Regions from separate parts of the Homo sapiens genome. Here region 1 is linked to region 2. The links come from fine-mapping of genetic effects on gene expression. A gene starts in region 2. The other region holds a variant in brackets. All regions are shown on one strand. Distances are from middle to middle.

Evidence for each region.
Region 1: its variant is fine-mapped to the expression of PSMB6 in monocytes after LPS (Quach 2016, PIP 0.95).

What each region holds. Positions count from the first base shown.
Region 1 is chr17:4,765,770-4,771,142 of GRCh38, forward strand. No RefSeq gene overlaps it. Among named protein-coding and RNA genes, the nearest start is that of TM4SF5, 3.4 kb to the right of the region's middle. The variant C/T (reference allele first, on the strand shown) is at 3,348.
Region 2 is chr17:4,792,939-4,798,311 of GRCh38, forward strand. It overlaps PSMB6 (proteasome 20S subunit beta 6), which reads left to right and starts at 3,226. Exons shown (of 6, transcript NM_002798.3): 1 at 3,226-3,358; 2 at 3,790-3,857; 3 at 4,500-4,631; 4 at 4,744-4,873; 5 at 5,071-5,215; 6 at 5,342-5,373. The coding sequence starts at 3,257. RefSeq lists enhancers at 2,985-3,583, 3,010-3,539.

The DNA.
Region 1 (5,373 bases), 27 kb before region 2:
GGCTGAGGCAGGAGAATCGCTTGAACCTGGGAGGCAGAAGTTGCAGTAAGCTGAGATTGCGCCATTGCACTCCAGCCTGGGCAACAAGAGTGAAACTCTGTCTCAAAAAAAATATATATATATATATTTACATATATACACACAAAAAGATTAGACAAGCATGGTGGGTGGTGAACATCTGTAGTCCCAGTTACTTGGCAGGCTGAGGCAGGACGATCACTTGAGCCCAGGAGATAGAGTTTGCAGTGAGCCAAGATCATGCCACTGCACACCAGTCTGGACAACAGAGTGAGACACTGTCTTTAAAAAAAAATGAGACTGGGCACAATGGCTCTGGCCGGGTTGTGGTGGCTCATACCTGTAATCCCAGCACTTTGGGAGGCCAAGACAGGTGGATCACTTGAGGTCAGGAGTTCAAGACCACCCTCCAACATGGTGAAACTTAGTCTCTACTAAAAATATAAAAATTAGCCAGGCCTGGTGGCCCATGCTTGTAATCCCAGCTACTTGGGGGGCTAAGGCAGGAGAATCGCTTGAACTCAGAAGGCTGAGGTTGCAGAGTCAAGATGACGCCACTGCACTCCAGCCTGCATGACAGAGCAAGACTCTGACTCAAAACAAAAGAGAAGAAAAATATTTTTTTCCAAAATGTGCATCCAGTTTTGTAACCAGATATATGAAATTTATTTAGACTTACGTCAAGACTTCCCCATTTTGGGGTTTTTATTTTACTTCATCTCTTGGTGAGTCAACACAATTTCTCTAAAAAAAAGGAGCCAAAGTGTTATTTTGAAATCCAAACATTCTCAGAAATGCAATTGTGTTGCCCTTAACATACAAAATGCAACTTAGACATGTATATGATAGTTCTACCTTTTTTGGTGGACACAGCTGCCTTACTCCTTTGTCCTCTGACATTCAGTATTTCAGAGAAGACTCTGGCCACACCAACTATTGTTTCTTTCTAAGTAGCCTTTTTAAATTCTGCCTAGATGTATCCTTTAATTCAGATATTTTGTCAGGATGAATCTATGGTCAGCTGACTTTTAATATTTTACCTGCCGTGCAGTATAACTTTCAACCCACTGACCTGAGTGGATCTATCTGCGCTCAGTGACGTCTTCTCCTAGTGCAGATGTTTTAACTGTGGTGTCACTTCCACCAGTTCTATTCTTGTTCTTAGGAGAAGCCAGTTTCCTGAATTTTTTTTTTTTTTTTTTTGAGCCAGAGTCTCACTCTGTCACCCAGGCTGAAGCGCAATGGCGTGATCTTGGCTCACTGCAATCTCCACCTCCCGGGTTCAAGCGATTCTCCTGCCTAAACCTCCTGAGTAGCGGGGATTACAGGCACCCGCCACCATGCCCAGCTAATTTTTGTATTTTTAGTAGAGACGGGGTTTCCCCATGTTGGTCAGGCTGGTCTCGAATTCCTGACCTCAGGTGATCTGCCCGCCTCGGCCTCCCAAAGTGCTGGGATTACAAGCGTGACCCACTGAGCCTGGACCTTTTTTTTTTTTTTTTTTTTGAGATGGAGTCTTGCTCTGTTGCCCATACTGGGGTGCAATGGTGCGATCTCGGCTCACTGCAACCCCCACCTCCCGGGTTCAAGCGATTCTCCTGCCTCAGCCTCCTGAGTAGCTGGGATTACAGGTGCCTGCCATCACACTTGTCTAATTTTTGTATTTTTTGTGAAGATGGGGTTTCGCCATGTTGGCCAGGCTGGTCTCAAACTCCTGACCTCAGGTGATTCACCGAGCTTGGCCTCCCAAAGTGCTGGGATTACAGGCGTGAGCCACCGCGCCCGGCCAGCCTTTTCTTTCTTAAGTTATTCTGTTCCTAGTTCCAGGAGAATTCTAGTGATGTCATCAAAAATCTTCCTGGAAATCTCTTCCAAATCCTATAGTAAATGTTCCTCCAGAGGATTCTGTTTCTTTCAGTCTTCAGGTTGATTTGCCCTTCCCTGGTTTTGAGAAAATTTTTCAGAATCCCTATAATGTTTTGTTAACATTATTAACATTATTTCATTCATCCAGAATTGTATAAAAATAATGTAATGAATGCCTGTGGACCACCCCACCCACACAACTATTTTTTTTCTCTTTATTCATCCTCAAAACAGACACCATTTGGCTGGCCGCAGTGGCTCACACCTGTAATCCCAGCATTTTGGGAGACCGAGGTGGGTGGATCACCTGAGATCAGGAGTTCGAGAGCAGCCTGGCCAACATGGAGAAACCCTGTCTTCATCTCCACAAAAAATACAAAAATGAGCCAAGCGTGGTGGCGGGCACCTGTAATCCCAACTACTTGAGTCTCCTGAACCCGGGAGGCGGAGGTGGCGGTGAGCCGAGATCACGCCACTGCACTGCAGCCTGGGCAATAAGAGTGAAACTCTGTTTAAAAAAAAATAAAAAAGAGGCACCATCTCTCAGAATCAGCTTGAGCAACTTGTAGACAAATAGGTGGCCAGCTCTTGGCCCTGCTCTCTGTCCATCAGATCAATGGCTGAATCCCCTCTTCAGGTCCACGGTTGGAAGGGCCACTATTCGGGATATGACAGTTGCTCTGGTAGTTCAACATTAGTGCTGGTGACAACCTCTCATCGGCCACCTCCTGAGGAACCAGAGTTTTCCAGTGCCTGTGCTTCTCCCTCTGGCGCTGTTTCAGAGTAACTATTCTCCATACACTTCTCTTGCTGTGACTTCTGCTTATTTCTGGTGTCAGTTGCCTCTGGCTTTTGATTGCTTCTTTCTTGCATACAACTCTCAGTTTGAAGCCACCCCACTCTCTGATGACTGTCTCAGCTTGTCTCACAGACACATTTCCCAATCATGAAGATCCAGTCGGTGGATTGGTCATTATCCAGTCAGTGTACCTCTGTTGGATGGAGTTCTCACCTCGAGAGACCTCACAGGTCGCTGGCTACATGTCTGCCTTTGGGTCAGCTACTTGTTCCTCAATCAACCAGCCCTGGCCTAGATAAGGGGGTCTGTGTTAGGAACTTGTTACTGGGCAACAAACCATCCCCCTCGACGAAGTCTTAGTGTCAAATAAATATAAGCATTTATTTCACTGATACACACATAGGAGTTGGCTGGGGGTCAGGTGATCTAGGGTGGGATCCAATGTGACCCTTTTCCTTGTATCTTTTTTTTTTTTTTCTAGATGGAGTCTTCCTCTGTCACCCAGGCTGGAGTCCAGTGGTGCAATCTCGGCTCACTGCAACCTCCATCTCCCGGGTTCAAGCAATTCTCCTGCCTCAGCCTCCCGACTAGCTGGGATTACAGGTGCCTGCCACCACACCCAGCTAATTTTTTTTGTATTTTTAGTAGAGACAGGGTTTCACCA[C/T]GGTAGCCAGGATGGTCTCGATCTCCTGACCTCATGATCTGCCCACCTTGTCCTCCCAAAGTGCTGGGATTACAGGCGTGAGCTACTGCGCCCGGCCAAAAGAAATTTTTTAAATTAGTTGAGTGTGGTGGTGTGGGCCTGTAATCCTGGCTACTAAGGAAGCTGAAGTGGGAAGACAGCTTGAGCTAGGAGGTCATAGCTGCAGCGAGCCATGATTATCTTACCATGGCACTCTAGTCTGAGTGACAGAGACCCTGTCTCAAAAAAAAAAAAAAAAGGATAATGTAAAATCTTTAAAGAAAAGGGACAGAGGCTGGGCGCAGTGGTTCATGCCTGTAATCCCAGCGTTTTCGGAGGCCGAGGCGGGGATCATCTGAGGTCGGGAGTTCGAGACTAGCCTGGCCAACATGGAGAAACCCCGTCTCTACTAAAAATACAAAATTAGCTGGGCGTGGTGTCGCATGCCTATAATCCCAGCTACTCGGGAGGCTGAGGCAGGAGAATTGCTTGAACTTGGGAGGTGGAGGTTGCAGTGAGCCATGATCGCACCACTGCACTCCAGCCTGGGCAACAAGAGCAAAACTCTGTCTCAAAAAACAAAAAAGAAGAGGAACAGAAAACATCAGAAGCAATATGGAAATGTTGTTTAAAGCATTAAACATGCCAACAGAAGCAAAACCAAATGTATCAGTCATCATAATTACCTATGAGTCAGAGACAAATAGTTGGGGAGGTTCAAAGTATTTTCTTTTTCAGGCATCCTCTGATTCAAGAGGTAAATTCTCCATGTATTTTTCTCAATCCAGTTCCTCTGTCTTATAAATAGCAGAGATTCTGGCTTTTCTCCATTTTCCACATTTCTGTAGTGGTCTGAGTGGGCCGCAAGGAGGGGCTGCATCAGGGGCCACTGGCTGGTGACACTTTCCAGGTGACAGCCTCATTGCATACCCTCTGAAGCCCTGCAGCCCTTCCTGCTACCCTCATCTCTTCATGGCACTCCCACATCCTACTTGAGCTAGGGCTCATTCTGTGGGGGCCTTCACTCTCCTGTTTGCTTCTGAGACCCAGGAGGCAGAGGTTGCAGTGAGCCGAGATCACACCACTAAACTCCAGCCTGGGTGACAGAGCAAGACTCCATCTCAAAAAAAAAACAACAAAAAACCATTAGCCAGGTGTGGTGGCACACACCTATAGTCCTAGCTACTCGGGAGGCTGAGGTGGGAGGATCACTTGAGCCCAGGTGGTCAGGGCTGCAGGGAGCCATGATCCACTCCACACCAGCCTGGGCAACAAAGGGAGACCCTGGTCTCAAAAACATTTTTTTAATTAAAAAAAAAAGAAGTCGACTGGGTGGCTTGGCTCATGCTTGTAATCCCAGCACTTTGGGAGGCTGAGGCAGGTGGATCATTTGAGGTGAGGAGTTTGAGACCAGCCTGGCCAACATGGTGAAACCCCGTCTCTACTAAAAATACAAAAATTAGCTGGGTGTGGTGGTGGGCGCCTGTAATCCCAGCTACTTGGGAGGCTGAGGCAGGAGAATCGCTTGAACCCAGGAGGCGGAGGTTGCAGTGAGCCAAGATCACGCCACTGCTCTCCAGCCTGGGCGGCAGAGTGAGACTCCGTCTCAAAAAAAAAAGAAGTTATCAAGGAAACTGCAGCACCCCAACAAAAACAGAACTTCTTTGACCTCAGAATGGAAAAATGGCAGAAGCTGATTCTCACAGAGTTGGCTCAGATCGCATGGCTGTTGCTAAATCAAACACCGAGGCTAGCAGGATAGAACGCTCTCATCAATGAGGCCTAGGTCCCGAGCCCACCCTGAGAGACAGGCAGTGGCCTCAAGAGGAGGAGACATCAATAATCAAATACCAGGAAGACGAAATGCAAGGACAATAAGAGCCCACAATCACCTCTTTAATTTCTCCCTGGGAAGAATGCTGCCTGAGAGGCTGGCAGAAACGAAGAGGCCACCACACATCTGCTCTGTGCTTCCTAGTTTACAAAATACTTCTCAGGTTGTCCCATT
Region 2 (5,373 bases):
AGAACTGCTTGAGCCCGGGAGGTGGAGACTGCAGTGAGCCGAGATTGCGCCACTGTACTCCAGCCTGGGCAACAGAGTAAGACTGTCTCAAAAACAAAACAAACAAACAAACAAAAAGAACTAATAAATGGTTCAATGAAGTTGCAGAATACAAGATCAAAACCAAAATCAGTTGTATTTCTATGTACTAGCAATGAACAATCCAAAAATGAAATTAAGAAGACAATGTCACTTATAACAGCATCAAAAAGAATAAAATACTTGGGAACAAATTTAACCAAAGAAGTGCAAGACCTATATATTGAAAACTATTATAAACACTGTTAAAAGAAATTAAAGGGCCGGGCGCAGTGGCTCACGCCTGTAATCCCAGCACTTTGGGAGGCCGAGGCGGACAGATCACGAGGTCAGGAGTTTGAGACCAGCCTGGCCAATATGGTGAAACCCCGTCTCTACTAAAATTACAAAAATTAGCCTGGCGTGGTGGCAGGCGCCTGTAGTCGCAGCTACTTCAGAGGCTGAGGCAAAAGAACTGCTTGAACCTGGGAGGTGGAAGTTGCAGTGAGCCAAGATCACGCCACTGTTCTCCAGCCTGGGTGACAGAGCAAGATCTGTCAAGAAAGAAAAGAAAAGAAAGAACGAAGGAAGGAAGGAAGGAAAGAAAAGAAAAGGAGAAAAGAAAAGAAAAGAAAAGAAGTACTACAAAGCTACAGTAATAGAGACAATATGATACTGGCATAGGATAGACATATAGATCAATGAAACAAAACTGAGAATCCAGAAGTAAGTCCATACATGTATGGTCAATGATTTTTAACAAGGGTGCCAAGATCATTCAATGGGGAGACAGTCTTTTTTTTTTTTTTTTTTTTTTTGAGACGGAGTCTTGCTCTGTTGCCCAGGCTTGGGAGTGCAGCGGCCCGATCTCGGCTCACTGCAAGCTCCGCCTCCTGGTCTCAGACCATTCTCCTGCCTCAGCCTCCCGAGTAGCTGGGACTATAGGCGCCCACCACTACACCCGGCTAATTTTTTTTTTGTATTTTTAGTAGAGGGGTTTCACCGTGTTAGCCAGGATGGTCTCAGTCTCCTGACCTCGTGATCCGCCTGCCTCAGCCTCCCAAAGTGCTGGGATTACAGGCGTGAGCCACTGCACCCGGCAGGTCTTTTCAACAAATGGTGCTGGAACAACTAACTGACTATCCATATGCAAAAGCATGGATTTGGACTTCTACTTCACATCACATACAAAAATTAACTCAAAATGGACCACAGACCTAAAAATGTAAGAGCTGGCACTATAAACTTTCATGCTTCAAAGAACACCAATGAAGGACATGAAAAGACAATCCAATGGGAGAAAATATTTTCAAATCATGTATCTGATGTTTCTAGTACCTAGAATATTAAAAAGGACCCTTACAACTCAACAATAAAAAGACAAATAGAGCCAGGCACAGTGGCTCATGCCTGTAATCCTAGCACTTTCGGAGGCCGAGGCGGGAGGATCACCTGAGGTTAGGAGTTCGAGACCGGCCTGGCCAACATGGCGAAACCCCATCTCTTTAATAAAAATACAAAAATTAGCCGGGCATGGTGGCGCATGCCTGTAATCCCAGCTACTTGGGAGGCTGGGGCAAGAGAATTGCTGGAACCCGGGAGGCGGAAGCTGCAGTGAGCCGAGATCACACCAGTATAAAAAGACAAATAGAGGCCGGGCGCGGTGGCTCACGCCTGTAATCCCAGCACTTTGGGAGGCCGAGGCGGGTGGATCATGAGGTCAGGAGATCGAGACCATCCTGGCTAACAAGGTGAAACCCCGTCTCTACTAAAAATACAAAAAAAATTAGCCGGGCGCGGTGGCGGGCGCCTGTAGTCCCAGCTACTCGGGAGGCTGAGGCAGGAGAATGGCGTGAACCCGGGAAGCGGAGCTTGCAGTGAGCCGAGATTGCGCCACTGCAGTCCGCAGTCCCGCCTGGGCGACAGAGCGAGACTCCGTCTCAAAAAAAAAAAAAAAAAAAAAAAAAGACAAATAGAGCTGGGTTCAGTGGCACACACCTGTAGTCCCAGCTACTTGAGAAGCTGAGGCGGGAGGATCACTGGAGCCCAGGAGTTCGAGGCTGATATAGTGCACCATGATCCCATCTGCACTCCAGCCTGGGAAACACCGCAAGACAAACCCACCCCACACACACACCCCACCCTCGTCTCAAAAAAAAAAAATTAAACCCCAAAAATATATTAAACAAAAGACATATCCCAATTTTAGAATGTGCAAAGAACTTGAAAAAACATTGCATCAAAAAAGACATACAAATGGCCAATTATCTCATGGAAATATGCTCAGCATCACTAATCATTAGAAAAATACCAATGAAAACCACAGGGTACCACTTCACACCCACTGGAATGGCTATAACTAAAAAAATGCACAATAACAAGTGTTGGTGAGGATGTGGAGAAATTGGAACCCTCACACATGGCTTGTAGGGATGTAAAATGGTGCAGTTTCTGTGGAAAACAGTTTGTCGGTTGCTCAAAATGTTAAACATACAGTTATCATAGAACCCATAAATTCCTCTGCCAGCATATACTCCTAAGTATATAACTAAAAGAAATGAAAACATGGTGTGGTCACTTTAGCCCAAAGACTCTCAGGTTTATTTTGTGGGCCCTTTGGACTGTAACTCCATAAGATCGGTACGGCGCAAGCCACTAGGACTGTTTTTTGTTTTGTTTTGTTTTTGCTTTTGTTTTGAGACAGTCTTGCTCTGTCGCTCAGGCTGGAGTGCAGTGGCGTGATCTCGGCTCACTGTAACCTCCGCCTCCCAGGCTCAAGCGATTCTCCTGCCTCAGCCTCCCCAGTAGCCGGGATTACAGGCGCGCCCCACCACGCCCGGCTAATTTTTGTATTTTTTAGTAGAGAAGGAGTTTCACCATGTTGGCCAGGCTGGTCTTGAACTCCTAACCTCATGATCCGCCCGCCTCAGCCTCCCAAAGTGCCGAACGGTTTTTGGGTTTTTTTTGGTTTTTTGGGGGGGGGGTTTTGCTGACTTTCTTGTTTTGTTTGTTGCTTGCCACGCTGCCATCAAGTGCTCACTGTCGCAAAAGAACCGTCCCCATGCAGTACTGTACTTTTCTTTTCCCTTCTGCCGTCAACCTCGGAGTAGCTTCGCTCCCAGAAGGCCTCAAAGCGCGACCAAAGAGCGTGACAGAGCGCTTTACGACAGTTGCTTTGAGGCAGTACCGGAGGAGAAAGATGGCGGCTACCTTACTAGCTGCTCGGGGAGCCGGGCCAGCACCGGCTTGGGGGCCGGAGGCGTTCACTCCAGACTGGGAAAGCCGAGAAGTTTCCACTGGGGTGAGGAAGGAATCGGGGTTCATAGGACGTGCACAAGGCCTGACGCGATGGGAAGATAAAGCCTGAGTGGGGTTGAGAGATCTGGCAGGGGTGGAGAGGAGGTGGAATGTGTTGTGCTCCAGGAATGGGGAGAGGTACCCCGAAGATGGTGGAGTGGTGCGGTAGCTTCGTAGTGGGAGGTGGAGGGTGGGCTGAAGTTTGAAATTCTGAAATCCTGCGAGGCTAGTGAGGATCTTGGGCTTAAGTACGGGATGAGTCTTTTGAGATTTGAGGGTTGGCATTCTGGTATTCTGCGGGGTGCTGAGGCCCCTATAAGATTTGAAAATGGTTCAGCGACGGACAGATTTTGTATTTTTGGAACTAGGTAGAGAGATCATTGAGGTTTGTGTCTGCTGGAGAATGTAGACTTACTCCTTTTTCCCTTTTCCCAGACCACTATCATGGCCGTGCAGTTTGACGGGGGCGTGGTTCTGGGGGCGGACTCCAGAACAACCACTGGGTGAGCTCAGGACAGATTTGTGAAAGGTCTTCCCATCTTCCTTTTCCTTTCCTGCCTGCCAGCCCACCCTGCCTGCCTCCACAGACCACTGTGGGAAGAGAGGTTTCTTCTCTCTCTGGAGATAAAGATTTGTCCCAACTTTTGTTACTTTCAGTTCCCCTCACTCGTTAGTGGAATCCTTACAAAAGTCTGTTCTCCAGCCCGCTTCAGTTTGGATGAGAATAAGCAATACTGGAGGCCAGGCACGGTGGCTCACGCCTGTAATCCCAGTACTTTGGGAGGCCGAGGCGGGTGGATCACCTGAGGTCAGGAGTTCGAGACCAGCCTGGCCAACATGGCGAAACCCCGTCTCTACTAAAAAATACAAAAATTAGCCGTGCGTGGCGGTGCGTGCCTGCAGTCCCAGCTACTTGGGAGGCTAGGGCTAGAGAATCGCTTGGACCCAGGAGGTGGATGTTGCAGTGAGCAGAGATCGCGTCACTGTACTCCAGCCTGGGCAACAGAGCGAGACTCCATCTCAAAGAAAAAGGAAAAAAAGGCAATACTGGACATCCTATCCCTGAGCCCTAAGAGAGTGGGTAGTGATGGGATGGAGGTGGAAGACAGGTGGGCTCCTTTCCTCACTATTCTGCCATCCTGCAGGTCCTACATCGCCAATCGAGTGACTGACAAGCTGACACCTATTCACGACCGCATTTTCTGCTGTCGCTCAGGCTCAGCTGCTGATACCCAGGCAGTAGCTGATGCTGTCACCTACCAGCTCGGTTTCCACAGGTGCTTGTGGGCAGGGGAGGGGCAAGTATCTGAAGGGAGTTGGAAGCTGAGGAGCTAAATAGCCTGACTTCTAGGTCTTGAAACTTTCTCTGTGACTTCCCTGACCCTCTAGCATTGAACTGAATGAGCCTCCACTGGTCCACACAGCAGCCAGCCTCTTTAAGGAGATGTGTTACCGATACCGGGAAGACCTGATGGCGGGAATCATCATCGCAGGCTGGGACCCTCAAGAAGGAGGGCAGGTCAGATCCCCACCCGACCAGAGCACACTTGAGCCAGGACTTTTATCCTCTCCCCAGCCATTTTCTTTTTCTTTCCAGTCTCTACCTCACTTATTCTTACTATTAACGTGCCTCAGACCAATAGCAGAATGGACAGGTGAATGTACGTGTGTTGGAGGGAGGATACGACTGGTGACTCCTCTCCTTCTATCTGGCAGGTGTACTCAGTGCCTATGGGGGGTATGATGGTAAGGCAGTCCTTTGCCATTGGAGGCTCCGGGAGCTCCTACATCTATGGCTATGTTGATGCTACCTACCGGGAAGGCATGACCAAGGAAGAGTGTCTGCAATTCACTGCCAATGGTGAGAGCTTAGGCTTCTGGGCCTATGAGCTTCAACCCCAACTACCCAAGCCAGGCCAGCATTCCTCATTCCTTGCAGTGATCCCGGCATCTGAATCTGAACCCAGCTTTCTTCTTTTATCCACAGCTCTCGCTTTGGCCATGGAGCGGGATGGCTCC